Linked DNA regions of Homo sapiens. The protein of the gene in region 1 purifies or fractionates together with the protein of each later gene. This does not show direct contact. Each region holds a gene or a part of one and is shown in the gene's direction. Other genes may lie near its edges.

The links.
Region 2: the proteins of PDK4 (region 1) and CNOT7 purify together in Homo sapiens (affinity purification with mass spectrometry; one large-scale study listed by BioGRID and IntAct). This does not show direct contact.
Region 3: the proteins of PDK4 (region 1) and CNOT10 purify together in Homo sapiens (affinity purification with mass spectrometry; one large-scale study listed by BioGRID and IntAct). This does not show direct contact.
Region 4: the proteins of PDK4 (region 1) and CAD purify together in Homo sapiens (affinity purification with mass spectrometry; one large-scale study listed by BioGRID and IntAct). This does not show direct contact.
Region 5: the proteins of PDK4 (region 1) and GCN1 purify together in Homo sapiens (affinity purification with mass spectrometry; one large-scale study listed by BioGRID and IntAct). This does not show direct contact.
Region 6: the proteins of PDK4 (region 1) and RPAP1 purify together in Homo sapiens (affinity purification with mass spectrometry; one large-scale study listed by BioGRID and IntAct). This does not show direct contact.
Region 7: the proteins of PDK4 (region 1) and CNOT11 purify together in Homo sapiens (affinity purification with mass spectrometry; one large-scale study listed by BioGRID and IntAct). This does not show direct contact.

Annotation. Positions count from the first base shown.
Region 1 is NC_000007.14:95,586,111-95,590,222, reverse strand, and holds part of PDK4 (pyruvate dehydrogenase kinase, isozyme 4), read left to right. Parts: intron 1-506; coding exon 507-583; intron 584-2,397; coding exon 2,398-2,496; intron 2,497-2,694; coding exon 2,695-2,805; intron 2,806-3,099; coding exon 3,100-3,213; intron 3,214-4,112. UniProt on the Homo sapiens protein: Kinase that plays a key role in regulation of glucose and fatty acid metabolism and homeostasis via phosphorylation of the pyruvate dehydrogenase subunits PDHA1 and PDHA2.
Region 2 is NC_000008.11:17,232,958-17,237,069, reverse strand, and holds part of CNOT7 (CCR4-NOT transcription complex subunit 7), read left to right. Parts: intron 1-2,209; coding exon 2,210-2,354; intron 2,355-4,112. UniProt on the Homo sapiens protein: Has 3'-5' poly(A) exoribonuclease activity for synthetic poly(A) RNA substrate. Its function seems to be partially redundant with that of CNOT8.
Region 3 is NC_000003.12:32,691,389-32,695,500, forward strand, and holds part of CNOT10 (CCR4-NOT transcription complex subunit 10), read left to right. Parts: intron 1-2,775; exon of another isoform or gene 2,776-2,852; intron 2,853-4,112. UniProt on the Homo sapiens protein: Component of the CCR4-NOT complex which is one of the major cellular mRNA deadenylases and is linked to various cellular processes including bulk mRNA degradation, miRNA-mediated repression, translational repression during translational initiation and general transcription regulation.
Region 4 is NC_000002.12:27,223,544-27,227,655, forward strand, and holds part of CAD (multifunctional protein CAD), read left to right. Parts: intron 1-19; coding exon 20-205; intron 206-373; coding exon 374-486; intron 487-801; coding exon 802-947; intron 948-1,201; coding exon 1,202-1,333; intron 1,334-1,466; coding exon 1,467-1,700; intron 1,701-2,161; coding exon 2,162-2,383; intron 2,384-2,587; coding exon 2,588-2,776; intron 2,777-2,981; coding exon 2,982-3,106; intron 3,107-3,288; coding exon 3,289-3,419; intron 3,420-4,112. UniProt on the Homo sapiens protein: Multifunctional protein that encodes the first 3 enzymatic activities of the de novo pyrimidine pathway: carbamoylphosphate synthetase (CPSase; EC 6.3.5.5), aspartate transcarbamylase (ATCase; EC 2.1.3.2) and dihydroorotase (DHOase; EC 3.5.2.3).
Region 5 is NC_000012.12:120,139,050-120,143,161, reverse strand, and holds part of GCN1 (stalled ribosome sensor GCN1), read left to right. Parts: intron 1-220; coding exon 221-338; intron 339-439; coding exon 440-655; intron 656-2,138; coding exon 2,139-2,303; intron 2,304-4,112. UniProt on the Homo sapiens protein: Ribosome collision sensor that plays a key role in the RNF14-RNF25 translation quality control pathway, a pathway that takes place when a ribosome has stalled during translation, and which promotes ubiquitination and degradation of translation factors on stalled ribosomes.
Region 6 is NC_000015.10:41,537,347-41,541,458, reverse strand, and holds part of RPAP1 (RNA polymerase II-associated protein 1), read left to right. Parts: intron 1-4,112. UniProt on the Homo sapiens protein: Forms an interface between the RNA polymerase II enzyme and chaperone/scaffolding protein, suggesting that it is required to connect RNA polymerase II to regulators of protein complex formation.
Region 7 is NC_000002.12:101,266,386-101,269,885, forward strand, and holds part of CNOT11 (CCR4-NOT transcription complex subunit 11), read left to right. Parts: exon of another isoform or gene 1-291; coding exon 292-494; intron 495-2,654; coding exon 2,655-2,751; intron 2,752-2,830; coding exon 2,831-3,028; 3' UTR 3,029-3,500. UniProt on the Homo sapiens protein: Component of the CCR4-NOT complex which is one of the major cellular mRNA deadenylases and is linked to various cellular processes including bulk mRNA degradation, miRNA-mediated repression, translational repression during translational initiation and general transcription regulation.

The DNA of each region.
Region 1 (4,112 bases):
TCCCTTCTGTCTTAAAATACATAAAATTTTGACTCTGAAATTGTGCAGTACAAAAATGTTGAAAATAGAAATAATCCACAAAATCTAATTTATAGCACTGTTCTTCCACACTTACCCAACTTCACACATTTGTGGAGAAATACAAAAATTAATCATATGGAGCAAGGTGGTTCATGCCTATCATCCCAGCAGTTTGGGAGGCTAAGGCTGGAGGATCGCTTGAGGCCAGGAGTTTAAGACTAGCCTGGACAACATAGTAAGACCCTATCTCTACAAAAAAAAAACAATTAACAAAAGAGCATTATGTAGCAACTACAACAACATTTTGAATATAAGCCAGTAATATTTACTGTTTAAGTGGTAAGTTTCTAGGGCAGGATTTGGGGATGGGGAAGGTAGAGAATATGCCAACCCTCTTGAAGTCTAAAATGTTAATCACATGAATGTGGTGGTTTATTTTAGTGAAGTATTTGTTTACAAATTCTTAATGAATTTTATTTTTCTAGGAAAATTTCCAGACCAACCAATTCACATCGTGTATGTTCCTTCTCACCTCCATCATATGCTCTTTGAACTATTTAAGGTATGATACTTCACAATAATTGAAATTTTACCTTTTAAAAAGGTTTAACAGTTATATTTTTATCTCCTTTATTATTCGCCACAAAACAGAAGCCTCAATATCTTTTCCCAAGAATGCTTCTAGTCCTCCTAAGAGAAAGAAACTATACAGTCAATGTTTGACAAAGTACATGTAGCTCATTGTAGCATCAACACATATTTGAGAATGCATCATACAATTCATGATGTATCAATGCTTTACAGCCAAGAGGAAGTTCTTATTATTTTTTCAGGTGCCCATTAAAGAACTAGTCATTTATTCATTCATTAAGAGAGGTCATGGGGTGAATGTTTCAGTGAATGAGGCCTTGTTACCTCCACCCCCACAGGCTGGTCCTACTCCTAACTCAGCAGTTCAGGTCCAGAATTCCTGTAGGTGGTATGGCTCCATTCAGAGTCCAGAATGTGCTAAGAGCACAGTCAGTAGTTCCTTCAATCATCTACTTTAAAGTGCATATGAATCACCTGGGGACTTAGTTAAAGTGAAAATTTTGATTCAGGAAGTCTAGAGTGGGGCCTGAGATTCTCAATTTTGAATAAGCTAAGGGGTGATGCTGCTGGTCCACAATGCACACTTTGCCTAGCAGGCCTGTAGAGTTGTGCTTCTCAAACTGTAATATGCATTAGAATCGCCTGCAGGGCATGTTAAAACACAGATTCTTGGGCTCTACCCCAGAGATTTTGATTCTTCAGGTCTGAGAATGTGCATTTCTAACAAGCTCTCAAAGGATACAGATGTTACTGGTCTGAGGCAGCCAGGTGCTAAGAATCAAATCCTTTCATGCGTCCTAAGATTAAGTTAAATTAAGATCAAATTGAACTTAAACCAAAAAATAGAAAAACACCTTAAGCTTTTTGATGCTTCCCAAGAGTCCCCTGAATTGGAGAGAAGGAAGCCTAAAAAAGACAAATCTGCCTCTAATTCTGACATAACTCTTTCCAGAACTTCCTGTTTCCTAACTTATTCTAATGTTACTGCTGTGAGGTACTGACTGTACTACAAACATCTGATCTACTTTATTTCACTACAGCTAATGACTAGAACTTAATATTATTTAAAAACCAGAAAGCAGAAAGTAGACAGGTGGTGAGAAAGGAAAATGGGTTAAGAAAACCAAGACTGTATCTGTATGAGATTCAGCCAATAGACGGAAAACATCTTTTAGTTTGTTCTGTGTTAAAGGACAAAGGATACTTTTTCATTGATTTGATTTATTTTTAAGTTGAATGATACAACTCATAGAGTTATTCTGCCATCATTGGTAAAAGTTAGATGATAATCAAATGCAAATTGAAATTCAATTTAGAATTATTGACTGTCCTTTTAAATAGTAACAACCTTTTCACAGCAAGTTTTATGAAAGCCAATAAATTGGTTCAATGATTTCACTGTTCATTTGTTATATAGTAGTCTTTGGTGCTTGGATGTAAAACGTAATAGAAAGATAGAAAAGGGAGAGCTAGGAAATGGACTATAAAAACCAATTTCTACATTTAAATTAAGCTTACAAATAAGAACTTGACAGCTAGCAGAATTGGTTTCCATTAGACATTACTCCCAGGAGCTATATTACATAGTAAATGAATATTTTTCATTATACATCCTACATGACCCATTCATAAATGGCTATTTACAAAGCTGTTTTACTACTAACTTAAAAAAATAGGAACTTTGAATTACCCTCTGTGCTACTTTTATTTTAAACATAAAAAAAAAAACATTTATTGTCCCTCATTCCTCTGCCATTGAATTCCTTATGGTTTGCTTTGTTTTAGAATGCAATGCGGGCAACAGTTGAACACCAGGAAAATCAGCCTTCCCTTACACCAATAGAGGTTATTGTTGTCTTGGGAAAAGAAGACCTTACCATTAAGGTAACCATTCTCTGTTTTCCTTTTGGGTGTCTCTTGAGAGAATTAAATAGGGTCAATAGTAATAAAGCTGTCTGCTTTTTGCAATAGATAACAGTCATATATGCCAGGTGATTTTTAAATGAAGGAAAGCCATTTTTATTTAGACAAATGCACATTGTTTTTAATGTGTGGCTTTGATGACTTGTTTGTTTGTTTTAGATTTCAGACAGAGGAGGTGGTGTTCCCCTGAGAATTATTGACCGCCTCTTTAGTTATACATACTCCACTGCACCAACGCCTGTGATGGATAATTCCCGGAATGCTCCTTTGGTAAGAACAATTATATGGCTAAATTAATCTCAGCCACCTAGTTCTAAATGTAGAGCAAGGATTGCAAGGGATTATTTAGACAAGTTCATCAATTAAGTAAAATTAGACATGAAGGATATAAGAATGAATGATAAAGCAAGCTAAAAATGGTGAAACAAGGGATGTCTGATTGGAAGTAGAAGATATTTATTTAGGTTCTAGGACATTAGTATCAGTGAGGACAGTAATTTCCTGCTTGTTTGTATTTCAGTGATCACATACACTTCTTTACCTGATAACGTCTCTCTTCTCTAGGCTGGTTTTGGTTACGGCTTGCCAATTTCTCGTCTGTATGCAAAGTACTTTCAAGGAGATCTGAATCTCTACTCTTTATCAGGATATGGAACAGATGCTATCATCTACTTAAAGGTATCCCTTGAATTCAATAGCAAAATCCTGTTTCTAAAACCATTGCTCCTTTTATAGCCTTGAGTGCTATGGTCTGGAGTGAATTCCCCAAACTGAGTTAATGCAAATAATGACTACAGGTCATTCATTCTCTTCTCTTTCTGGGTGTGTGTACATTATTTAATATGATAACTTACCAAAGAGGAAGCTGGGCCATACTACCTGCCTCAAGTGAAGCAAAATTGTTTCCTAAGAAGGTTAATACATTACCAAAGTTTCAGAATGAGGACATGTTCATGTGAATTTTTTAAGGCAACTCCTTTTGGCATCTATGAGAGTAGCTGTGCTTTTATTTTACTTAGATTTGTGGGAAATATATGCTAATAATGTTCCAGCCTGAAAAAATAACAGGTATCAAGATACTCAAGTCCTTAAGCTGACCTTGTTAGAAATCCTGGGAAAGGAAAGCTGACTGTTCCAAAGCTGTCAGTGGGGTGCCAGACATTCACTGTTTGAACTTAAAAACTTGGTGCATGTTGGCTGGGCACAGTGGCTCACGCTTGTAATCCCAGCACTTTGGGAGGCCGAGGCAGGTGGATCACAAGTTCAGTGGTTCTAGACCAGCCTGGCCAACACAGTGAAACCCCGTCTCTACTAAAAATACAAAAATTAGCTGGGTGTGGTGGCGGGTGCCTGTAACCCCAGCTACTTGGGAGGCTGAGGCAAGAGAATTGCTTGAACCCGGGAGGCAGAGGTTGCAGTGAGCTGAGATCGTGCCCCTGCACTCCAGCTTGGGCAACAGAGCTAGACTCCGTCTCAAAAAAAAAAAAAAAAAACCTTGGTGCATATTTTCCTGTTTCTGGTAAAGCCTCAATTTCTTTGTTAAGATCACTGTCTTGATTCTGTTCATTTGCTGACTA
Region 2 (4,112 bases), on another chromosome or scaffold:
GGCTAATGTTGGTCTGCTTAAAGGTTAATTTAAAATATGGGATCCATTTTTGCCTGTGAGAAGCATGTTGCATAGTGGAAACAGTACAGGTTCTCTAAAAAGTGAAAGACCCTGGTTTAAATCCAGCGGCGCCATTTGGAATTGGTGTTACCCAGGGTTTTCTTTTACTATTTCTACACCTTAGTTTTTAATGTTCTACGGGGGAAACCATTCACTTACATTTACACAACGTTATTGAGTATTTACCATATGGCAGGCACTGAGATGAGATTCTAGGAACTAAGGTGTGAATAAAACAGATGAAAATTATTTTCCTCATGGAGTTTATATTCTCATGGGGGTGGGCAGACAGTTTTTAAAAATGGAGTTCACGTTGTGATTTGTTAGATAGTGATAAGTACTATCTCAAAACAGCAAAGAAAATGCTAGGGATGGGTGTGGAGATGGATTTTAATTTTTTTTTAAAGTGATAAGGCATCCCTTAGAAGAAATAGCTTGAAGACTTGTTTTAATGGTCACCAAAATACTTTATAAACAGTAAATTCTCAATAAGTGGTGGTTCTAAATTCTTTATTGTTATGAAACTAGATTATTTAAGAGTGTTTCTGGTAAGGAAACTATTCCGATTTTGTGAAATAGACTTCCAGGTATGAAAAAGAGTTTTCCCATCTAAGTAAACTAAACTGACGTTCCAGGGACTAAAAGTAACCTTCAGAATGATATTGGCTTTTGTTAGGTTTTGAAAAAGCATTGTGTTACATAGATGTTAATACTCTCATACTTGGTCCACTTCACACATGTATCTTAAATCTGAGTCTCCTGCATGTTTAGTTTCTGTCTCTGATCTGTGGGATGTTTATAGTGAAGGACTGTTCATGTGGGCAACTTTGATGTGTACTAACCAGAAATGGTTGAGTTGTAGGTACTGAACACACTCATTCTTACCTATCATCTTTTTTGTCTCTTCTGCACTTGAACTTGTACCTTAGGAAACATAACTTAAGACTCTTGATACAAATACCTTTTTTTTAGTCATTTTTCTTCCCTAGATATGAAGGTGCAAAAGAACTGGAAAGTATTGCCCTTCCCTTTTACTGTATATGACATACCCTTTCATTTAAAAAATACTCTGACAAAATACAGTGCACTAGGCACTGGGTATTAAGATGAACAAAAACAAACAGGGTTCATTCATGTCTTCTTGGAGTTTAGAATCTAAGTTAGACTGATATATTTGAATATTTATCAAGATAGAAGATTTTATTCCATTAAATATCATTAGTTGTTTTCCTCATATTCTAATTTCAAGTAATGAAGAATAGTTTAAGAAGTTTATAAATCCTAAGCGCTAATATAATCTTTTAATGTTAGTGAGCAAATGTCATATAGGCTTCCTGTTAGAGGTCCTTGGAAGGAAAGGTAGACAAGGGACGGACGTGTCTAAGTGGCCTGGGAGTGTAGGGAGACAGAAAGCTGTGCGAAAGGCCGGACAAAGGGAGAAGAGTTCTGGATTTGAGAGTGTAGGAGTTTGCATTTTATGATCAAGAGAGTAGTTATTTTTTTACTACCCTTCACTTCTTCCATGTGCAGCATTTCCATTAATAATGACTCTTAGGGAGCCACACTGAAAGGAAGAGAATTGTGAAGGAAGAAAAGGGAGAGACTACTTAACACAGTCATTTAAGAGAAGTGAAAATACCTTGTTACAGTCTTATTCTTTGGATAAAGTATATGACCACCTTATGTAAAAGTGGGATGACTTGCATTACTTTTGTCTACCGAATGCCAGTTCTCTTGCTACCTTTGCTAACTCTTCTGGCCAAGTTTCCATTCATCTTTATTTCTCCATTTCCATAGTTACTTTAAAAAATATTTTGAGACATCTGTGGGCAGCTTGATACTCTTCTTGGTGTTCTCTATTCAGATATCAACAAAATAGTATTTTATTGACCATAGGCTGGTTTGGTAGTGTAGGTCTGTGTTGATATCTCTGAATAATAAAGTGATAAAGTTCTTAATACTGTAAGATGACGACATTTTCTCATAGTTCTCAATATGTTTGTTTTCTCTGTTCTTGTGTGCACTTCTCTTTAATGTTTTTGGGAGGGCTCTAGTGTGACTTGCTTAAATTTGAATCAGAAAAACTTTTTTTTTTAATCTTTATAGTATTTATATGTCCCTCTTCTCTATTCTTTTAACCCTTTTATAGCGGTTACGACTTTGGCTACTTAATCAAAATCCTAACCAACTCTAACTTGCCTGAAGAAGAACTTGACTTCTTTGAGATCCTTCGATTGTTTTTTCCTGTCATTTATGATGTGAAGTACCTCATGAAGAGCTGCAAAAATCTCAAAGTAAGGCTTCGGATGGCATTATCTACAGCAGCACACTGTTCAGACCAAGTGACTGTCATGCGAGCCTAGGCTGGGATGTTGTTTTAAACCATATTTTAAAGTATTACAGTGAATGCAATTATATTATCTGGTCATGTGATTTTTTTTCTTGCATACATAATTTGTAGGGAATCCTTTTTTCAGAGCTTCAGTATGTCTTGGCAGAAGGCAGAATTTTCAACACATTTCAGGCTTAGGTCCGGTTCTTGTCACTGCTTGCCAGATTGAAAATCACAAACCAAAACACAAATCTGAGGACATTGAGGCTCTCATATGCACGCCATTGTGAGTTGTTACTTTCTCCCAAGACGCATAGAATCTGTTCTTACAAGGTGGAATCTAAGGTGGCCAGCGATATGCAGATGTATTTAGTAGTGTGGCAAAAGTTTTTCTTTCCTTTTGGCTTATCTTGGCTAGAAATTATTTTGTCAGTTCTAGTGATAGGATAATGCTCCTAGGATTAAACTATATAGCTAAAAGATTTTTCTGTGGCCAAAAGATGTCAGCTTGTTACAGTTAAGTACTATGGGAAATGTGTAGGTCCTGCCTAGATAGTAGTAACATTTTGACGCTGCATAACATGTATTTTTAAATTCTAAACATTAATTCTTTTTTTGTTTTTGAGACGGAGCCTTGCTCTTGTCGCCCAGGCTGGAGTGCAGTGGCGTGGTCTCGGCTCACTGCAACCTCCGCCTCCCGGGTTCAAGTGATTCTCCTGCCTCAGCCTCCTGTGTAGCTGGAATTAACAGGTGTCCATCACCACACCCAGCTAAATTTCGTATTTTTAGTAGAGTCGGGGTTTTACCGTGTTGGTCACGCTGGTCTTAACAGATAACTGAAGATGAGAAGCTTTCTTTTGGCCAGTGTTTACCTTTAATACATGATATGGTCAGCATATGACTAGAGAAATTTTCAAGAAAGATTATTTTATGTTTGTAGCAGTAGACTTCTGTGTAATTTGAGGGGACTTCCAGGAAGTGAACTTGCAGTAGGGTATCCCTTGCTTGAGAAATTCAGCCCACCCTGTGAAAGCACTGCATGCTGAGGCCTACATGTTTTCATCTGACTTTTTTTTTAATTGACATGTCTGTATAATGATAGTTTTCAGGAACAGGGAACCAAATTATTGCTCATCATGTGGTTGTTACTGGGAAGTTTCTAAGTACAGATATTCTGAATGTGTCCTGAGTAAGCTGCTGTGTTAAAATTCAGGTTAACGACAAAGGTGCTTTTTGACCTATAGTCAGCCATGCTGTTCTATTCAGTTCTAGTTCTGTTCTCCTAAGCAGCTGCTAACGATACCTAATCCTCGTGCTATTTTTAGCGCAGAAGCAACTGCTGTGCAAAGCCTTGTTTCAAGCTGTGATGCACAGAAGGGCCATTTTGCCGGTGGAGGCCTTAACAAGTTAGAGAAGAATTTTTGTTTTGTTGTTGGTGTTTCTTTCCTTCACGCTCTACTTATTCTCCCCTCCCTTTACTCTCCTTGCCTGTCCTCCCACTTTCTTTCCTTCTGTTACTGTCTTTCTCTTTCTTTCTTTCCACTCTTTCCACTCTCATCTTTCTTTTTTAATCTTAGGAGTATTAACATAGGTGGATTATAGCAGACCACTCTAAGGAGTTGTGTGCATATACTCGTCTTAACTAAGAAAACCATAGTGAAGCATTTAGCATACTCTTAATGATTATTCATAATGGCTTTGTTTTGTAAAAATTAAGTGA
Region 3 (4,112 bases), on another chromosome or scaffold:
CTGACCTCATGATCCACCCACCTCGACCTCCCAAAGTGCTGGGATTAACAGACGTGAGCCACTGTGCCTGGCCATGCCCAGCTAACTTTTGTATTTTTAGTAGAGACGTGGTTTGACCATGTTGGCCCGGCTGGTCTTGAACTCCTGAGCTTAAGTGATCTGCCCGCCTCGGCCTCCCAAAGTGCCGATGTGAGCCAACACACCTGGCTCTAGCTATGACTTTTAATGTTGAATCATTTCAAAATAGGTTATAAACATCATAACACTTCATCTCTAAATATTTCAACATGCGTTTCTTAAAAATAGGGACATTCACCTATGTAACCATGATGCCATTGTCATAGTTTAGACAATTCATGTTTTAATATATTAAAAATTTCCTGCCAGCCAGGCATGGCGCCTCACGCCTGTAATCCCAGCACTTTGGGAGTCTGAGGTGGGAGGATCAGTTGAGTTCAGGAGTTAGAGACCAGCGTAGGTAACATGGTGAAACCCTGTCTCTACCAAAAATGTAAAAAATTAGTGGTGGCGCATGCCTGTAGTCCCACCTACAAGGGAGGGTGAGGTGGGAGGATCATTTGAGCCTGGGAGGCAGAGGTTGCAGTGAGCCAAGATAAACACCACTGCACTCCAACCTGGGTGACTGAGTGAGACCCTGTCACCAAAAAAAAAAAAAAAAAGCCAATTTCCCGCCAGGCATGGTGGTTCATACCTATAAATCCTAGCACTTTGGGAGGCCGAGGTGGGTGGATTGCTTGAACCTAGGAGTTCAAGTCCAGCCTGGGCACCATGGTAAAACCCTGTCTCTACAAAAAATACAGAAAGTTAGCTGGGTGTGGTGGCATGTGCCTGTAGTCCCAGCTATGGCTATATTTTAAAAATTTATTTGTAGGCACAGGGTCCCAATATATTGCCCAGGCTGGTCTCAAACTCTTGGGCTGAAGGAATCCTCCCAGCTTGGTCTCTCAAAGTGCTGGGATTACAGGTGTAAGCCACTGCACCCAGCTTTATCTCCTGTATTTTCTTAAACTCTAACTTATTTCTACAGGCTTGATTAGATATAGGTTCAACATATTTTTGAGAAACTTTGTAGGTGATGTTATATACTTTATTTTCTGTATAAAGTACATAATGTCAGGTTATCCAGTATTAGTGATGCTAAATTTGATCAATTTGAGGTGCTGACAGGAACATCTTTTTCCATTTTCAGTTAGAGGTAATTTATGGAGTAATTGGCATTTCGTAAATATCCACTGTTGTTGATTCTTTCCTCAATCAGTTGTATTATTGAGGGTTACAAAATGATTTTTACCTAGTTCTATTGTAGTTTCTACCTTTGTTAGTGAATATTCTTCTTTAAAGAGTAGCTCTCCTGGGCTGGGTACAGTGACTCATGCCTGTAATCCCAGCACTTTGGGAGGCCAAGGTAGGCAGATCGCTTGAGCCCAGGAGTTCAAGAGCAGCCTGGGCAACATGAGAGCCTGTCTCTACGAAAAGATTGAAAAAACTTAGTTGGTGTGCTGCTGCGTGCCTGTAGTCCCAGCTACTTGGGAGGCTGAGGTAGGAGGTCACTGGAGCCCAGGAAGTCGAAGCTACAGTGAGCCGTGATCACAGCACCGCACTCTAGCCTGGGCTACAAAGTGAGACCCTGTCTCAGAAACAACAACAAAAAAGAATAGCTTTCCCATATTGACTGTTAGTCTTCCCAGAAAGCCATGTTAAATGCTAAAAGCTTAATTCATTATTTTCAATTACCAGTTTTCAGAACAAGGAGTTGATGTGGTAGTGACCTATGTTTGATATTTAAAGTGGTTTTTTTTCTTTTTTAAATTTAATTAATTTTTTTGAGGCAGGCTTTCACTCTGTTGCCCAGGCTGGAGTACAGGGGCATGATCTTGGCTCACCGCAGCCTCGACCTCCCGGATTCAAGTGATCCTCCCACCCCAACCTCCCAAGTAGCTGGGACTACAAGTACATGCCACCACACCTGGCCAGTTTTTCTGTTTTTCTGTAGAGACAGGGTTTTGCCATGTATCCCGGGCTGGTCTCAAACTCCTGGACTCAAGCAAGCCTCCTGCCTTGACTGCCCAAATTGCTGGGATTACAGGCGTGAGTAAGTGTTTTTAATATTAGAATTTAGAGTAATATATTGGTCTTTTTTTTTTTTTTTCCAGACAGGGTCTCACTCTGTCACCCAGGCTGGAGTGCAGTGGCATGAACACTGCTCACTGCATCCTTGACTTCCCAGGCTCAAGCGATCCTCCCACCTCAGCCTCCCAAGTAGCTGGGACTATAGGCATGCGCCACCACGCCTGGCTAACTTTTGTATTTTTTGTAGAGATGAGGTTTCGTCATGTTGCCCAGGCTAGTCTTGAACTCTTGAGCTCAAGCCATCCTCCCACCTTGACCTCCCAAAGTGCTGGGATTACAGGTGTGAGCCACCATGCCCGGCACTTATATTAGTCTTATGATTTCAATTTAAAATGTATAATTGACTGAATATTGATTTATACTTGTGAATTTAAATTGAAACCTTATTGCAGTTATTTTATTTTGTGGACATTAGAGAGTACCTAAGAGTCACTATAAGTTTAATTTTTTAGGTATGTAAGTTATTCTCAGGAAATTTTTTTTTCTTGACACATGTTAAAATACAAAAATTTTGTCTTTTTAAGTCTAGCAATTATACTTAAAATTGAATATATTGTTGGGGTTTGGTGGGGGGGTTGCAATAGTTCTCACTTGATAAATTTTTTTTTTTTTTAATTTAAAAAAAGTGTTTGGTACTCTACACTTTCAGAGAAACTTCTCCAGTAACAAACTGTAGAAATGATCCCTGAAAGTGTAGTCTTGGTAAAATTTTTTAAGTAGTTAACATTTTATGTTTGAAGATGTTATGTTGAAGGTGAACTTTGAAATGAGTTTAGACATTCATCACAGGCCTTTAAAATTAGACCTCCAAGTAGAATAAGTTGTCTAAGTTCGGTGTAAAAATTTGAGTAAAATCTAGGCTTTTTGAATTTGTAACTTTAATAAATTAAGTATTAATATTTTAAAACTAGAGTAAATCTCAGTCTTTTCTATGCATAAAAACTCCTCCTCTTAGATGTGAAAACAAAATACTCATCAGCAGTGGCAATATTCTGCTTTGCCTAGCTTCCTTAAAGCATGCTGATATTGTTTTTTCTTCTTTCAGTTTTTTGTTTGTTTGTTTGTTTTTTGAGGCAGTCTTGCTCTGTTGCCTAGGCTGGAGTGCAGTGGCATGATCTCGGGTCACTGCAATCTCTGCTTCCTGGGTTCAAGTGATTCTCCCGCCTCAGCCTCCTGAGTAGCTGGGATTATAGGTGCGCACCACCACGCCCAGCTAATTTTTGTATTTTTAGTAGAGATGGGGGTTTCACCATGTTGGTCGGAATGCTCTCAAACTCCCCACCTCGTGATCTGCCTGCCTTGGCCTCCCAAAGAGCTGAGATTATAGGTGTGAGTCACCGCGCCCAGCCTAACTTTTATATTTTTAGTAGAGATGGGATTTCACCATGTTGGCCAGGCTGGTCTCAAACTCCTGACCCCAGGTGATCCTCCTGCCCTGGCCTCCCAAAGTGCTGGGATTACAAGCCTGAGCCACCGTGCTGGCCATGCTGATATTATTGATTTGAATTTCTGTTCCTTTATTTCTACACTACTGGGCAGGATGCTCAATTCTGTAACATTGCTTGTTACAAATGGCTTATTCTTTGGGCTGCGAAGTGTGTGCTTTCCCATTTCTCCAGCTCCTCTTGTCCAGTGGAGGGAATATGGTTTAGTGAATAAACCATTTGAGGTTTTGGTAAGTCAAGTATACTTGTTCAGATGATAGAAATCATATGTGAGGTATGTTAACCTAGCTGTATAGTGACATTAGTGGGCCTGAATTGTTTTTCTTCGAAGTGGCATCCTTCTTAAGATTTAAAACTTTCCTTCACAAGGGCATCATTGGTATTTTGTGACTGTGATTGTTGATTTCCTTAGGTCTTTTAACATCCCTTTTTTCTTTGGAAAAGTTTTCTTTTCTTGATATATCAGTGGAGCTGTATTTTGATGAGTGTAGCTTGTAGTCTCCACCAATCAGATTT
Region 4 (4,112 bases), on another chromosome or scaffold:
GGCATGCTTCTACCTCCAGATATGGGAACCGAGGCCATAACCAGCCCTGCTTGTTGGTGGGCTCTGGGCGCTGCTTTCTGACATCCCAGAACCATGGGTTTGCTGTGGAGACAGACTCACTGCCAGCAGACTGGGCTCCTCTCTTCACCAACGCCAATGATGGTTCCAATGAAGGCATTGTGCACAACAGCTTGCCTTTCTTCAGGTGAGCCTGGTTGACTGGGTCTGTGAAAATTTGAAGCCCTGTGGGCCTTGATGATGGAAAAGTAAAGCACGGCAGTGGATCCGAGTCCCCTGTCCCACTACCCACCTCGAGGCTGCCAGTGTCATGCCAGGGACCATGATGGTTTTCATGATGCAATCTCTTCAATAGTGTCCAGTTTCACCCAGAGCACCAAGCTGGCCCTTCAGATATGGAACTGCTTTTCGATATCTTTCTGGAAACTGTGAAAGAGGCCACAGCTGGGAACCCTGGGGGCCAGACAGGTAAGATCCTGAGTAGAACTGGGTTGTGGACCTAAGAACAGGGTTGGCTCCAGGATGGGCATAAGGTGGACATGCCCTGGGCAACTCCTAGATGTCTAGGAGGTTAAGGGTATTGGGGATGGGTGGCAACCAACCCAAGATACCGTTTAAGCTTCTGTTGAAAGGAACTCCAGGGTCCTGGGTTCTGGTCCTCCCTCTGCTCCTCCTGAGGTGCATAATTTGCTCTGGACTCTTCTGAAAGCGAGGGAGCTAATCCAGTTGACCTCTTGGGTCCAGCTCAGCTCTAACATTCTACGACCTTCTTTGCTTCCACAGTTAGAGAGCGGCTGACTGAGCGCCTCTGTCCCCCTGGGATTCCCACTCCCGGCTCTGGACTTCCACCACCACGAAAGGTTCTGATCCTGGGCTCAGGGGGCCTCTCCATTGGCCAAGCTGGAGAATTTGACTACTCGGGCTCTCAGGTGAGGCATGTTCCTCCCCACCCTTCTGGGCGTGTGACCCTCAAGAATGGAAAGGGTCTTAAGGAGAAGGGCTAAGGTTGCAGGGAGGAAATGAACCAGATTTGGGGAATGTAGAGAAAGATGTAGTAAGAAATAGAAGTCAATTATTAGGGGCCAAGAGTACAGGGAGGGAAAGAAGAGGAGAATGCTACTCTAAGGCTGTTTGCAATTTTGCTTCTTCAGCAGAGGCTGAGATGCCATTCTTGTCCTTTTAGGCAATTAAGGCCCTGAAGGAGGAAAACATCCAGACGTTGCTGATCAACCCCAATATTGCCACAGTGCAGACCTCCCAGGGGCTGGCCGACAAGGTCTATTTTCTTCCCATAACACCTCATTATGTAACCCAGGTATGACTGGGGCAAGGCTGGAATGAAAAGAGGACTGGGCAGGGGGGCCCAGTGGTCACTGTGGGTTATTAAACTTTGATTGCCTCTCTACCCACAAGGTTCTGATGCCTGTAACTCCCCTCTCCATCCTCAGGTGATACGTAATGAACGCCCCGATGGTGTGTTACTGACTTTTGGGGGCCAGACTGCTCTGAACTGTGGTGTGGAGCTGACCAAGGCCGGGGTGCTGGCTCGGTATGGGGTCCGGGTCCTGGGCACACCAGTGGAGACCATTGAGCTGACCGAGGATCGACGGGCCTTTGCTGCCAGAATGGCAGAGATCGGAGAGCATGTGGCCCCGAGCGAGGCAGCAAATTCTCTTGAACAGGTTGGAGGGGTGTTTGGGTAAAGGAAGAATGGTGGTGTTTTTTTTGGTAGTGTTATTTTCTTTTTTTTTTTTTTTTTTTTGAGACGGAGTTTCGCTCTTGTTGCGCAGGCTGGAGTACAGTGGCGTGATCTCGGCTCATCATAACCTCCACCTCCCAGATTCAAGCGACTCTCCTGCCTCAGCTTCCTGAGTAGCTGGGATTACTGGCATGCGCCACCATGCCCAGCTAATTTTGTATTTTTAGTAGAGACGGGGTTTCTCCATGTTGGTCAGGCTGATCTCGAACTCCTGACCTCAGGTGATCCACCCCCCCGACCCTCGGCCTCCCAAATTGCTGGGGTTACAGGCGTGAGCCACTATGCCCAGCCATGTTATTTTCTTTATATCTTTTTTTATGTGGGACAGGCACACCTTGGACAGTAGGAAATAACCTGTTTGTTCATCTCTTCCACTCATTGCAGGCCCAGGCAGCCGCTGAACGGCTGGGGTACCCTGTGCTAGTGCGTGCAGCCTTTGCCCTGGGTGGCCTGGGCTCTGGCTTTGCCTCTAACAGGGAGGAGCTCTCTGCTCTCGTGGCCCCAGCTTTTGCCCATACCAGCCAAGTGCTAGTAGACAAGTCTCTGAAGGGATGGAAGGAGATTGAGTACGAGGTGGTGAGAGACGCCTATGGCAACTGTGTCACGGTGAGTGAATGGGGGAAGGGTGGGCGTCGTGTCAGGCAGGATGAGCTTTTGGAAGAGCAGAGGCCCAGGCCAAGGTCTTTGAGAGTTGTATGTCCCTCAGACCCAGGTTAGGTGCAGCCCCAGAGGTAACAGGACCCTGGGGTGCAGCCTTCTGCCTCTCCTGACTCTGCTTGGCAGTGACCTCCATGGCACCCCCCTTCACAGGTGTGTAACATGGAGAACTTGGACCCACTGGGCATCCACACTGGTGAGTCCATAGTGGTGGCCCCTAGCCAGACACTGAATGACAGGGAGTATCAGCTCCTGAGGCAGACAGCTATCAAGGTGACCCAGCACCTGGGAATTGTTGGGGAGTGCAATGTGCAGTATGCCTTGAACCCTGAGTCTGAGCAGGTAAGCTCTAGGCCCTGGAACTGATAGTCTAGTTGTTACCCCCTCTTCTTGTATAATTTTTGGCCCTTGAGGTTGAGGTCTTTTGGGCTTACAGTCCCTGGAGTACAAGCTGGAATCTTCTTTACTAGGTTACTTTTCTCTCCTTTCTGAGACCTCTCCTAGACAGGGTCTTCTAGGCCAGTGACTTTATTCTCCTTCTTTGCAGTATTACATCATTGAAGTGAATGCCAGGCTCTCTCGCAGCTCTGCCCTGGCCAGTAAGGCCACAGGTTATCCACTGGCTTATGTGGCAGCCAAGCTAGCATTGGGCATCCCTTTGCCTGAGCTCAGGTACGAGGATGAGGGAGATATCACAGTGGGGAAGTGGGTCGGGGGCTGAGGAAAATATTGATGGGACAGGGAATATGAAAAGGACATTGGCCTGGATTTGTGGGAATGGAAAGAGCTATCCGGAAGCTCACCCTTTATGCTTCCTTCACTGTCCTTCTGGCATCCCACCTGCTGGACCCCAGGAACTCTGTGACAGGGGGTACAGCAGCCTTTGAACCCAGCGTGGATTATTGTGTGGTGAAGATTCCTCGATGGGACCTTAGCAAGTTCCTGCGAGTCAGCACAAAGATTGGGAGCTGCATGAAGAGCGTTGGTGAGACTCATGCCCTGGGCACCCCCATGGGGCCCCACCATGACCAAGAATCTTAAATGTCAAGAGTTCCCTGGCATGGCCTTTTACGTCCTATGGGAGCAGGTGCTTGAGACATTTCAAACTAAGATTATAGTCCTTGTCAGGAGTTGGGGAGGCATCTGGAAATCTGTGTTGGAATACAGAATCTCTGGGATAGGTGCAAGCCATCAGACTATCTCATCTCATTTTTGCAGTATCTCCTCCTCTGGCACTTTGTGCTTTGGTCACTAAATGACCTTTTTTTTTAGTATGATGTTTACATCAGAGCAGGGCATCATAAACCTTTTTGGTAACAAGGAAATTTATTAGTGAATGATGAATGGCCGTAACGTTACCCAGCAGTGGCAGAGCATGTTAGAATTGAGTTAGTATGTTTCTTTGTGGTATCCCTTTAGTTGCCGAAGACCGTCCTCTAACACATTTCAACCAAAACAAAAATATACGTGTACCAGACACAGCGCCACCAGCCTGATGGATAAGAGCATTTTGTGGTGCTCCAGATTTCCATTTAGAGCAGTAGTGGCCTTTAAACAAGTAAGTCTAAGCTCAGATATTATTTCAGAATTTTTAGAAATTCTGCAAGACTGCCAATTTTTTCCTTCTGGAGATGAATCTCTGTTATATGAAAATTAGAATAAACATGGGAATGAAGCC
Region 5 (4,112 bases), on another chromosome or scaffold:
AAAAAGTTTTTTTCCCTCAACATTAATGTATGTTCATTAGTAGAAAACTTGGAAAATATGTGGGCGAGTGTAAAGAAATGTAAACCACCTGACTCTTCCCATTCCAAGATGACCGTCATGAGTATTTTGGGTGCACTTCTTTCCATCTTCTGTGCAGTGCTCAGTTGTGCCGAGCCCACTCCTTGCAGCTGTGTGACTGTGTTGTTGGCCTCCTTCTCAGGTTCAGCTCTGTTCAGCTCCTTGGGGATCTCCTGTTTCACATCTCAGGAGTCACTGGGAAGATGACCACAGAAACTGCCTCTGAGGATGATAACTTTGGAACTGCCCAGTCCAACAAGGTGCCTGCAGTGGCTTTCCTGCCCCTGCTGATGGTAGGGTGTGCCCTGATGCCCATGCCATAGAGGCTTCACTACTCTCTGTCCCCTTCTACTGGCTGCAGGCGATCATCACTGCCCTGGGGGTAGAGCGGCGGAACCGGGTGTTGGCAGGGCTGTACATGGGCCGCTCAGACACCCAGCTGGTGGTGCGGCAGGCGTCCCTGCATGTCTGGAAGATTGTTGTCTCCAATACCCCCCGCACCTTGCGTGAGATCCTACCCACTCTCTTTGGGCTCCTGCTGGGTTTCCTGGCCAGCACGTGTGCAGATAAGAGAACGGTGAGTTTCCTGGGCCTTGTTTTGGACCAGCAGCCCCAGTGCCTCCTTTCAGAGCCTAGAAGGCTGGGTCTGCAGAGCCTGGGAAAGTACCCATCCACCCTGCCTAACAGAGGGACATTGTGTTCTTTACTTAGTCATTCTGCAAATATTTTTTGATTAATTTTATTTTATTTATTTTTTTGAGGTGGAGTCTTGCTCTGTCGCCCAGGCTGAAGTGCAGTGGCGTGATCTCAGCTCACTGCAAGCTCCGCCTCCTAGGTTCATGCCATTCTCCTGCCTCAGCCTCCCGAGTAGCTGGGACTACAGGCATCCACCACCACACCTGGCCATTTTTTTATATTTTTAGTAGAGACGGGGTTTCAGCACGTTAGCCAGGACGGTCTCGATCTCCTGACCTCGTGATGCGCCCGTCTCGGCCTCCCAAAGTGCTGGGATTACAGGCTTGAGCCACCACGCCTGGCCTCTGCAAATATTTATTAGCATCTCCTGTGCACTAAGCAGGGGCCTAGCACCTGGGGACACAATGGAGAAGAAAGGCAGCTTCATTCCTTATCCTCATGAGAGGTAGTCTAGTCGAGGAGATGGATATTAATCAAATAACCACACAAAGAGATGTAAAATGCGACTGTGGCCAGTGCTGCATGGCACTGCAAATGCTTATAATAGCTGCATTTGACCTGCTGGGGAGGGATGGGCCTGTGTTAGTGAACACTTCTCAGAAGAAATGATGCTGGAAGATGAAAGATAAGTAAGCACTAACCAGGTGAGGAGGTGGCGAAAGACCATTCCAGACAGAGGGAATAAATAATGTTTCAGATACAAAGACAGGATATGCAGAGGTCCCGTGGTGGGCAGGAACATAGCACCAGTAGGGGCTGAGCAAGGCCAGTGTGGCTGGAGTGAGGAGGCAGGGAGGAGCAGTGCGGCATGAGATCAGGCTGGCGCGCTGGCAGGGGCAGACAGATCAGTGGGCCTGGAGGAGGTGCCCAGATGGGCTGGTGATCATTTCTGCCCATCTCCTTTGGTCTACTTCCAACCCCCCATCCTTGGCAAGCAAATTGTGTATTTGGCTCTAAAGAAGGGTTTGCATGAGGTCTCAGAAAGTAGATGTTTTTTTTTCCTTAAAGCTTTGTTCCAGATTCGGCTCCTGCTCAGCCATAGCACAGTGTTAAGGCTTCAGTCATCCAGGGAAATTGGCCCTTGACTGTGCAGCAGATGATGAATTTTTTGTACATGTGTAAGGTGCTGCTGGCTCTTAATGTTAGGTTGTGTAGGTGTGTGTGAAACAGATAATTTTTTGGTAGTGTTTTGCAAGCACTACAGAGAGTATTTGGGGGCTCTTTAGGGGTAAGAGCATTTGGGGAAGTTAAGTCAGTGATTCAGATAAAGCCTGGGAGGTTTCAGGGCCCTCATTCTGGAGTCCTCCTCTGGGTGCCCTGGGCTTTGCAGGGACTTTACTTCCTGGATTGGTCTCTGTTGACAGATTGCAGCGAGAACATTGGGAGATCTTGTGCGGAAGTTAGGGGAGAAAATCCTCCCCGAGATCATCCCCATCCTTGAGGAAGGCCTGAGGTCTCAGAAGAGCGATGAGAGGCAGGGTGTGTGCATTGGCCTAAGTGAGATCATGAAGTCCACCAGCCGGGATGCCGTGAGTATCTTCCAAGGATCCCGCCAGCTGTGCACTGCAGACGACCTGACTCAGAGGGCGGGGGAGGGCTACTGAAGGAGGTTCACCTCTAGGGGGTTTGTGCTGCCCTCAGGGATGAGCCAGTCTCACTCTGGGGAGGTGCTGGCTGGGCCACATGGACTTGAGGCTCCGTCTTCTCAGCTTTCCTGTCAGTTTTGCAGGCTAAGAGCTAAGTGATTTGGATGCCTCCTTGAGTGGCCTTTGGAAACTGGAGATGATCGCTCTCTTACAACTGTGGAGGTTGCTCAGGATCAGTCTCTTTTGTGATGCTATATAAGTCCAGTTAAAATGTGTGCACCTCCTTCTGGGAAAGGGGATGGACAGCTGTGTGAGTGGGTAGGGCAGGAGGGTGCGGGAGGGGGTGTGCACTCACCCTTAGCAGGAGGGGAGCAGGTAAGAGTTGTGGTGCCAGGTGGGAGGAAGCATATTGCGTCTGGCAACAATACTGTTTCCATAGCAGCAACGTTCAAGGGGTGTGAAGTCCATTACTCTTACTTGGTTCCTGAGTTAAATGATCCTGGAGACCACCCTGGGGAGTAGGTTAGGAGTGCTTTTAGGCACTGCCTTCGTGTTTGGATGAAAACGCCAAAGCAATTAAGTGGATGGCCCGCTAGAAATGTAAGCAAGTGGCCAGTTGCTTGGCTTGGGCATCCTTGTCTGAATTCCTAGGATACCAGATCCCTCTTCTCCTATATTGATGTTTGTCTTACGTTTGGTTTTTAAAATTTACATTTGGCAAGGAATCAAAAGAAATTCTGTCATCAGAAAGAGTTGTGATTCATTGGAGAGGTAGAGTTCCACAGAGGCTGAGTTCTTGTCTGCAAAGTCCCCACAGTCCAATGGCAAGGCCCACATGCCAACCAGTCATTAGAATGCAGAGTGGGCTTTGCTGTGCTGGGATCGTTACTGAGGGAGCAGAGCCATTATTGGCTCCATTGTAGACCCAAAGACTTCATAGAGCACAAAGTCTGGATTGAGACTTGAAGAAGGACTTGGAGTTTTCCAAGAGAATAAGCAAAAGAAAGAGTCCAGGGAGAGAGGGGGCCAGATGCCATGGGAAGGAGTTTGCAGTTCTTAGAGAAGATGGGAGGTATATTGAGAATTCACCTAAAAGATTCAAGCTGTTGATTATTAAGTCTCAGTGAAGGATACATGGGGGTGCATCACATCCTCTCTGCTTTTTTTTTTTATTGAGACGGGGTCTTACTCTGTCACCCAGGCTGGAGTGCAGTGGTGCGATCATAGCTCATTGTAACCTTGACCTTCTGGGCTCAAGTGATCCTCTCGCTATGGCCTCCTGAGTAGCTGGGGACTATAGGTGTGCACCACCACACGTAGCTAATTTTTGCATTTTTAGTAGAGGTGAGGTCTCACTATGTTGCCCAGGCTGGTCTCAAACTCCTGGCCTCAAGTGATTCTCTTGCCTCCACCTCCCAAAGTGTTGGGATTACAGGCGTGAGCCACTGTGCGCGGCCCCTCTCTACTTTTTAATTTTTTTAAAATTTTTAGTTTAAGACAATCTCACTCTGCTGCCCAGGCAGGAGTACAGGGGCACCATCTCTTTTGGCTACAGCCTCTGCTTCCTGGGTTCAAGCGATTCTTGTGCCTCAGCCTCCTGTGTAGCTGGGATTACAGGTGTGCACCACCACACCCAGCTAATTTTTGTATTTTTAGTAGAGATAGGGTTTTGCCATGTTGACCAGGCTGGTCTCGAACTCCTGGCCTCAAGTCATCCGCCCACCTTGGCCTCCCAAAGTGCTGGGATTACAG
Region 6 (4,112 bases), on another chromosome or scaffold:
CCATATTTATTCCCTGCTTTTTTTTTTTTTTTTTTCAAGATGGAGTCTAGCTCTGTCACCCAAGCTGGAGGGCAGTGGTGTAATCTTGGCTCACTGCAACCTCCACCTCCTGGGTTCAAACCGTTCTCCTGCCTCAGCCTCCCAAGTAGCTGGGAGTACAGGCACATGCCACCACGCCTGCCTAATTTTTTTGTATTTTTAGTAGAGATGGGGTTTCACCATGTTGGCCAAGCTGGTCTTGAACTCCTGACCTCAGATGATCCACCCACCTCAGCCTCAAAGTGCTGGGATTACAGGTGTGAGCCACTGCGCCCGGCCCTATTCCCTGCTTCTATACCTTTGCCCAGCTCTCCCTTCTGGCTGGAGGCCTATCTTATCCTTCAAGGTCTGGTTCAGTGGTTTTCAACTGGGGGTGATTTTTTTCTGAGGTGACATTTGGCAATGTCTGCAGACATTTTTACTTGTCACAACTAGGGGAGGAGGTTTGATGATGACGTCTAGTGGGTAAAAGCCAGGAATGCCGCTAAACATCCTACAGTGCGCAGGACAGCTTCCCACAGCAAAGAATTACCCAGCTATAAAGATCAATAGTCCCTATTGAGAAACCTTAGTGTAGTTGCAGCCTTTGCTCTTCAGGAGATTCTTTATAGTTCTTCCCCATCTGCCTCACTATTCCAGACTTCCAGGACACCCAGGCACCACACAGCAGTAGGCAGTAGAACATAGTGGGTAAGAGCATGGACTGACTGGGATTGAATCCTAATCCTAGCACACACTTACACTGAGACCTTGAGCAAATACTTAACTTCTCAGCACTATTCTTTTCTCAGCTGTAAAATTTGAATAATAGTAGTAACTGGCCCGTTGCAGTGGCTCACGCCTGTAATCCCAGCACTTTGGGAGGCAGAGGCGGGCAGATCACCTGAGGTCGGGAGTTCGAGACCAGCCTGACCAACATGGAGAAACCCAGTCTCTACTAAAAATACAAAATTAGCTGGGCGTGGTGGCACATGCCTATAATCCCAGCTACTAGGGAGACTGAGGCAGGAGAATCGCTTGAACCTGGGAGGCGGAGGTTGCAGTGAGCCGAGATCGTGCCATTGCACTCCAGCCTGGGCAACAAGAGTGAAACTCCATCTCAAAAAAAAAAAAAATAGTAGTAACCTACCTCCTAGGCTGTTATGAGGATTAAATGAATGAATATGGAAAAAGTGCTTAGAGAACAGTATGTGGTGCATACTAAGTGCTCAATAAGTGTTAGATATAACAATATTTTTATTATTATCAGCATCTAGCTCAGGGGTTCCAAAACTAGCCAGCCAGCTTGCAGATATCTTTGGCCAGCCCAGCGTTTTTTGTTTTATAATTGATTTATAGTTTATATACCACAGAAGTCATCATTTTATTTTATTATTATTATTTTTTTGAGACGGAGTCTCACTCTGTCGCCCAGGCTGGAGTGCAGTGGTACGATCTTGGCTCACTGCAGCCTCCGCCTCCCAGGTTCAAGTGATTCTTCTGCCTCAGCCTCCTGAGTAGCTAGGATTACAGGCACCTGCCACCACACCCGGCTAATTTTTTTTGTATTTTTAGTAGAGACTTCACCATGTTGGTCAGGCTGGTTTGAACTCCTGACCTCGTGAGCCACCTGTCTCAGCCTCCCAAAGTGCTGGGATTACTGATGTGAGCCACCGAGCCTGGCCAGAATTCATCATTTTAAAAGTTTACAGGCCAGGTGCAGTAGCTCAGGCCTGTAATCCCAGTACTTTGGGAGCCCAAGGTGGGCAGATTTCTTGAGCCCAGGAGATCGAGACCAGCCTGTACAACATGGTGAAATCCTGTCTCTGTAAAAAACACAAAAATTGTGGGGCACGGTGGCTCACGCCTGTAATCCCAGCACTTTGGGAGGCCAAGGCAGGTGGATCATGAGGTCAGGAGTTCGAGATCAGCCTGACCAACATGGTGAAACCCTGTCTCTACTGAAAAACTACAAAAAATTAGCCAGGCATGGTGGTGGGCGCCTGTAATCCCAGCTACTCAGGAGGCTGAGGCAGGAGAATCACTTGAACCTAGGAGTCAGAGGTTGCAGTGAGCCGAGATCGCGCCATTGCACGCCAGCCTGGGCAACAAGAGCAAAACTCCGTCTCAAAAAACAAAAAACAAAAAACAAAAAAAAAAACAAAAATTAGCTGAGTGTGGTGGTGCATCTGTAGTCCTAGCTTTTTGGGAGACTGAGGTGGGAGGACGGCTTAAGCCCAGGAGGTAGAGGTTGCAGTGAGCCAAGATCACGCTACTGCACTCCAGCCTGGGTGACAGAGCCAGACTCTGTCACAATAAATTAATAAAGTTTACAATTCATGGCTTTTAGTATATTCACAAGGTTGAACATTTTCATTACTCCAAAAAGACGCTCCATACCCATTAGCTGTCAATTCCCATTTCCCTCCAGCTCTCCTAGCCCCTGGCAACTACTAATCTACTTTCTGTCTCTATGGATTTGCCTATTTTGGACATTCCATATGAACAGAATCATACAATATGAGGTCCTTTTTGGCTAGCTTCTTTCTTTCTTTTCACTAAATAAAATGTTTCTGAGTCATATAGCTTCTTTCACTTAGTATAATGTTTTCAATGTTTGTGCATTGGAACTTCATTCCTTTTTGTTGACAAATAAATGTAAGGTCTCTATGTTAATTTCTTTTTTGCCTTTGTGCCATGGTTACGTAAAGTCTTAACCTTTGGAGAAACTGGGTGAAGACTACATATGGAAACTGTTCATACTATCTATATAAATCTGTAAATCTAACATTATAACAAATCACAAGTTTAAAAAGTACATAAATTTACAGTATATAGAGAAAAATAGAAATATGCATATTTTATCATGATACAAAACATTTGATTGCTGACCTGTTTGTTGATTTTTTTTGTTTTTTCTTTCCTTTTTTATCCTCTAAGCCTCTGATCACTTATCATTGTCAAGGTTGAGCAGACAGAGAAGTGCATACATTCTGCAGCTTGAGTGCCTAACTTGAGATTCTGTTTCTGACATTTACTGTGGATTTGGGGCAATTAAATTAACTTTCTGTGTCAAGTGGGAGGATCACCCAAGCCCAGGAGTTTGAGGCTGTAGTAAGCTATGATAGCAGACTGCACTCCAACCTAGGTGACAGAGTGAGATCCTGTCTGTTTTTTGTTTTGTTTTGTTTTGTTTTTTTGACAGAGTCTCACTCTGTCGCCCAAGCTGGAGTGCAGTGGCTCCATCTCAGATCACTGCAAGCTCCGCCTCCCGGGTTCACGCCATTCTCCTGCCTCAGCCTCCCGAGTAGCTGGGAATACAGGTGCCCGCCACCACGCCCGGCTAGTTTTTTATATTTTTAGTAGAGACGGGGTTTCACCGTGTTAACCAGGATGGTCTTGATCTCCTGACCTCATAATCCACACGCCTTGGCCTCCCAAAGTGCTGGGATTACAGGCGTGAGCCACCGCATCCGGCCAATGCAATTGTTTTCTTAATTCCATTTTCTGCATGTTCTTTGCTAGTGCATAGACATACAATTTTTTTTTTTTTTTTTGAGACGGAGTTTTACTCTTGTTGCCCAGGCTGGAGTGCAATGGTGCAATCTCGGCTCACAGCAACCTCCATCTCCCAGGTTCAAGCGATTCTCCTGTCTCAGCCTCCCAGGTAGCTGGGATTACAGGCGCCCACCACAATGCCCAGCTAATTTTTTGTATTTTTAGTAGAGATGGGGTTTCACCATGTTGGCCAGGCTGGTCTTGAACTCCTGGCCTCAGGTGACCCACCCTCCTCGGCCTTACAAAATGCTGGGATTACGGGCGTGAGCCACTGCGCCTGGCCACAAATGTTTTTTATATTGATATTTTACAGCCCAAGGTTTTTAATAATTTACATACCTTTAGGCCAAGCATGTTCTCTCCAGTTTGATACAGAATCATCACCCCCCCATTATGACAACATTTATCTGCTCGGCCCCTGATGACATTTTCCTCAGGTCTCCTGCTGGTTGTTCCTGAGAGTTTTATCACCTATAGATTGTAAACAACCTAAGTTGGCTATAAATATTGTTGCTAGGCTGATGACATCAGGGAGG
Region 7 (3,500 bases), on another chromosome or scaffold:
TATCTGACCAGACAGTGTGGAGTCTGGTTTGATGCCCAGGAATAGGAATCACTAGCATATTTATAAACTGTCTTAGATGTGTTTGCATTTTAGTTTGTTCAAAATTAAAATGTAAATTTAGAAATGTCAAGACATCATGGGTTTGAAGGAAGAAATTTATGAAGTTGGTTCAATGCAGATAGTTTTGTAGCTTTTTGTATAAAATGCTTATTTCATATACATGGGAAAAAAAATTGACTCAACACCCTTTCTCTCTCCCTCTCTCTCTCTTTAAAAATCTGGTGTATTTAGCTACTTGGTGAGTTGGAAAAAGACCCCAAACTTGTCTACCATATTGGCCTCACCCCAGCCAAACTTCCTGACCTTGTGGAAAACAACCCTTTAGTCGCTATAGAAATGTTGCTGAAATTAATGCAGTCAAGCCAGATCACTGAGTATTTCTCTGTCCTGGTCAATATGGACATGTCTTTACATTCAATGGAAGTTGTAAATCGGTAAGTTTCTAGATTTGATCAAATGTGTGGGGATAGATACAGATTAGATGGCCAGGAAAGAAAAATTGTAACAGATTTTTGTCTTGATATTATTGGCGTAAGATTAACTATTAAAGAAATAATGTAAGCCTTAGCATTCACTACATGTAAATTTAGCATGCGTTAATAAGAACTGAGGGTAGGATTTCAAACATATTTAGTGTTAGTAGAAGCATAAATGAAATTTAATTGCTGAAATTTATTTTATTTATTTATTTTTTTGAGAGGGAGTCTCACTCTGTTGCCCAGGCTAGAGTGCAGTGGCGTGATCTCAGCTCACTGCAACCTCCACCCGCTGGGTTCAAGCAATTCTCCTGCCTTAGCCGCCCTAGTAGCTGGCATTACAGGTGTGTGCTACCACACCCGACTAATTTTTGTATTTTTAGTAGAGACGGGGTTTCGCCATGTTGGTCAGGCGGGTCTCGAACTTCTGACCTCAAGTGATCTGCCCACCTCAGCCTCCCAAGTGCAAGGATTACAGGCATGAGCCAGTGTGCCAGCCAATTGCTGAAATTTATTTCCCTATACATAGTCCTGTCTTCTTTATCCCTATACAAATATAGATACTATTTTTTCTTAGTGACTAACAGCTGTAAGTGTGGAAAAATATGGACCTTAAGAGCTGAGAATCCTAGGAATGCTGTCCTAGCTTCCTCGTGCTCTTCTCCCAGCCTTTCTGACCCCCAGGCTCCTGACCCTGCCATCCTTGACTGTCAGGAAAACAGAACATCTTCCCTTCTTGATGTGTGCTGTACAGTGTTTGCATTTTAGAGTATTTTCCTTACAAATATCTTTTAGGTAAATTGTGAATTAGATGGGCTGGAGGGCTTAAGTTGTTTATGTGCAGGGTGGCCAGAGGTTCAGGTGTGCCTGAGAGTCCTGGTGGAGGCTTTGCATCCTGAGCTCCCTTTCACGTGGTATCCTGTTTTGGATGATAAATTATATGGTCCTCCTGTATGGGGAAATCCATTCTGAGTGCCAAGCAACTAAACTTCAGTACTGGAGAGCATAGTTTTTGAACACCTGTTTGTAAGTTGGGGCTTTTTGAAAAAATCTATGTGAAATTGAACTACAGAATGTGTCCTTTTTTCATCAACTATTGGGGGAAAAAAAGCCCAGCTGGAAGCTGAGGGAGTGGAAGTACGTGCATAGAAGGAGAGTGCGTTCTTTTAGCGGTAGCAGAGGGAGGAAATGTGAGGTTTCCAAATTAATTTTTAACTTTAACCGTGGTCACTGGCAAAACCGGCTAGCTGCTTGTTGAAAACGTGCTGCTGCACATCTCCCCCCTCTTTGTTCCAGTCTTTCCCCTACTGAGTGAAGACTCACTCTTTTCAGTGGCCCAGTTCTGTGCAGGTCCTCCGGATTGACCACGCTGAGTGTTCACTTCCCTTTCACCATATTCTTATAGCAGTTCTTGTCTCTACCAGACATTTGGCCCTGAGTCCAAGATGCAGAATCACTTACATCTTTTTATCAATGTGATTCTATCTGCTCAGTATCTTGGAATTCAAGGACAAGGTCCTGTTTGTTTTCCCCCGATACCTATCATAGTGCATCATCCTTAAACGTGAAACACGTTTTTTGGCGACGCACAAATCTCAAGAGACTGCAGCAGCTCATGACAGTGTCCTTGGAGCACTACATCCTCATGCCTTATTGAAAAAAGTTTTGAGGTCTGTTAAGTTTAGAAAAGGCAGCATATATTAATCTTCTTTTGGAAATTCATACTTTGAGTACGGAATTCCTGTTCCCACCCCACTCGTTTTTCTCATTAAAACATTCCATGTAATCCTTTGGAAAATACTGGCTTTGGCCTTTATTATGACTCTAAATTCCAATAACAGACCATGACTTAGGATTTAACCAAGAATACTCAGGGACAGGGCTCAAAAAAATAATTGCGATATGTAAATGTAAGTAGAGACATTTTAAACAGTGTTATTTATGAGTAAGTAGGTATGGCTCTTAGGTTAATTTGCCCAAGTATATTTAAAACTAGGGAATTGGATATGTCAGAAAATTCCACCAGATGACCAAAGCAAATTTTGTATTTTATGGTTAACAGTGTTTCTCAATGTTAGCAAATGAAATTAATGGGCCAAATTTTCTTTTACGAAACAGACTAACTACAGCTGTTGATCTACCTCCTGAATTTATTCACCTTTATATATCAAATTGCATCTCTACTTGTGAACAGATTAAGGATAAATATATGCAGGTAATATAAATTTTTGTAAATTTTATAAATGGCTGCCAGGAAAATGAGCAGACTAACATTTTTTTTTTTCCTTTTTCAGAATCGGTTGGTGCGTCTTGTGTGTGTGTTTCTCCAATCCTTGATCCGTAACAAAATTATTAATGTACAGGATTTGTTTATAGAAGTGCAGGCATTCTGTATTGAATTCAGTAGGATACGAGAAGCTGCTGGTCTTTTCCGGTTGTTGAAGACATTGGATACTGGGGAAACACCTTCTGAGACCAAAATGTCAAAATAATACCTCATCAGAACCATCCCATCCATTCACTGTTCAGCTGTACTGTGATTTAGTTTTTACACCGTTAAAACCCTGAGTGGATTGCTTGGTTTAATGCATATAAACAGTACTTTATCTACTTAAAGCAAAGTTTTGCTTTCTTGAATGACTTTTTCTGTGAGATGAATTTTTGATAAGAACTAGGGAAAACATGTCTTTTAGGTGTCTTGCTGATGACTATCCATAGGAGGAATGGCTATCCCAAAAAAAGTTCCGCAAAAAAGTAGATGAGTTTCTTTTTTTTTTAAGCACTAAAGAACAAAATGCATTTTTCATTAATACAGGCTTCTGATGAACCAGGAATCCTGTTTTCGTAAAGTTCCAATGTTGATGAGAGTAAATTCTTAAGCATTTGTCCTAGAGGTGAAAGCAGCTGAATGTTTCTGAACCATCAAGAGGCAAACAAACAGGAGTTTGTTTCTTGAACCTGCTT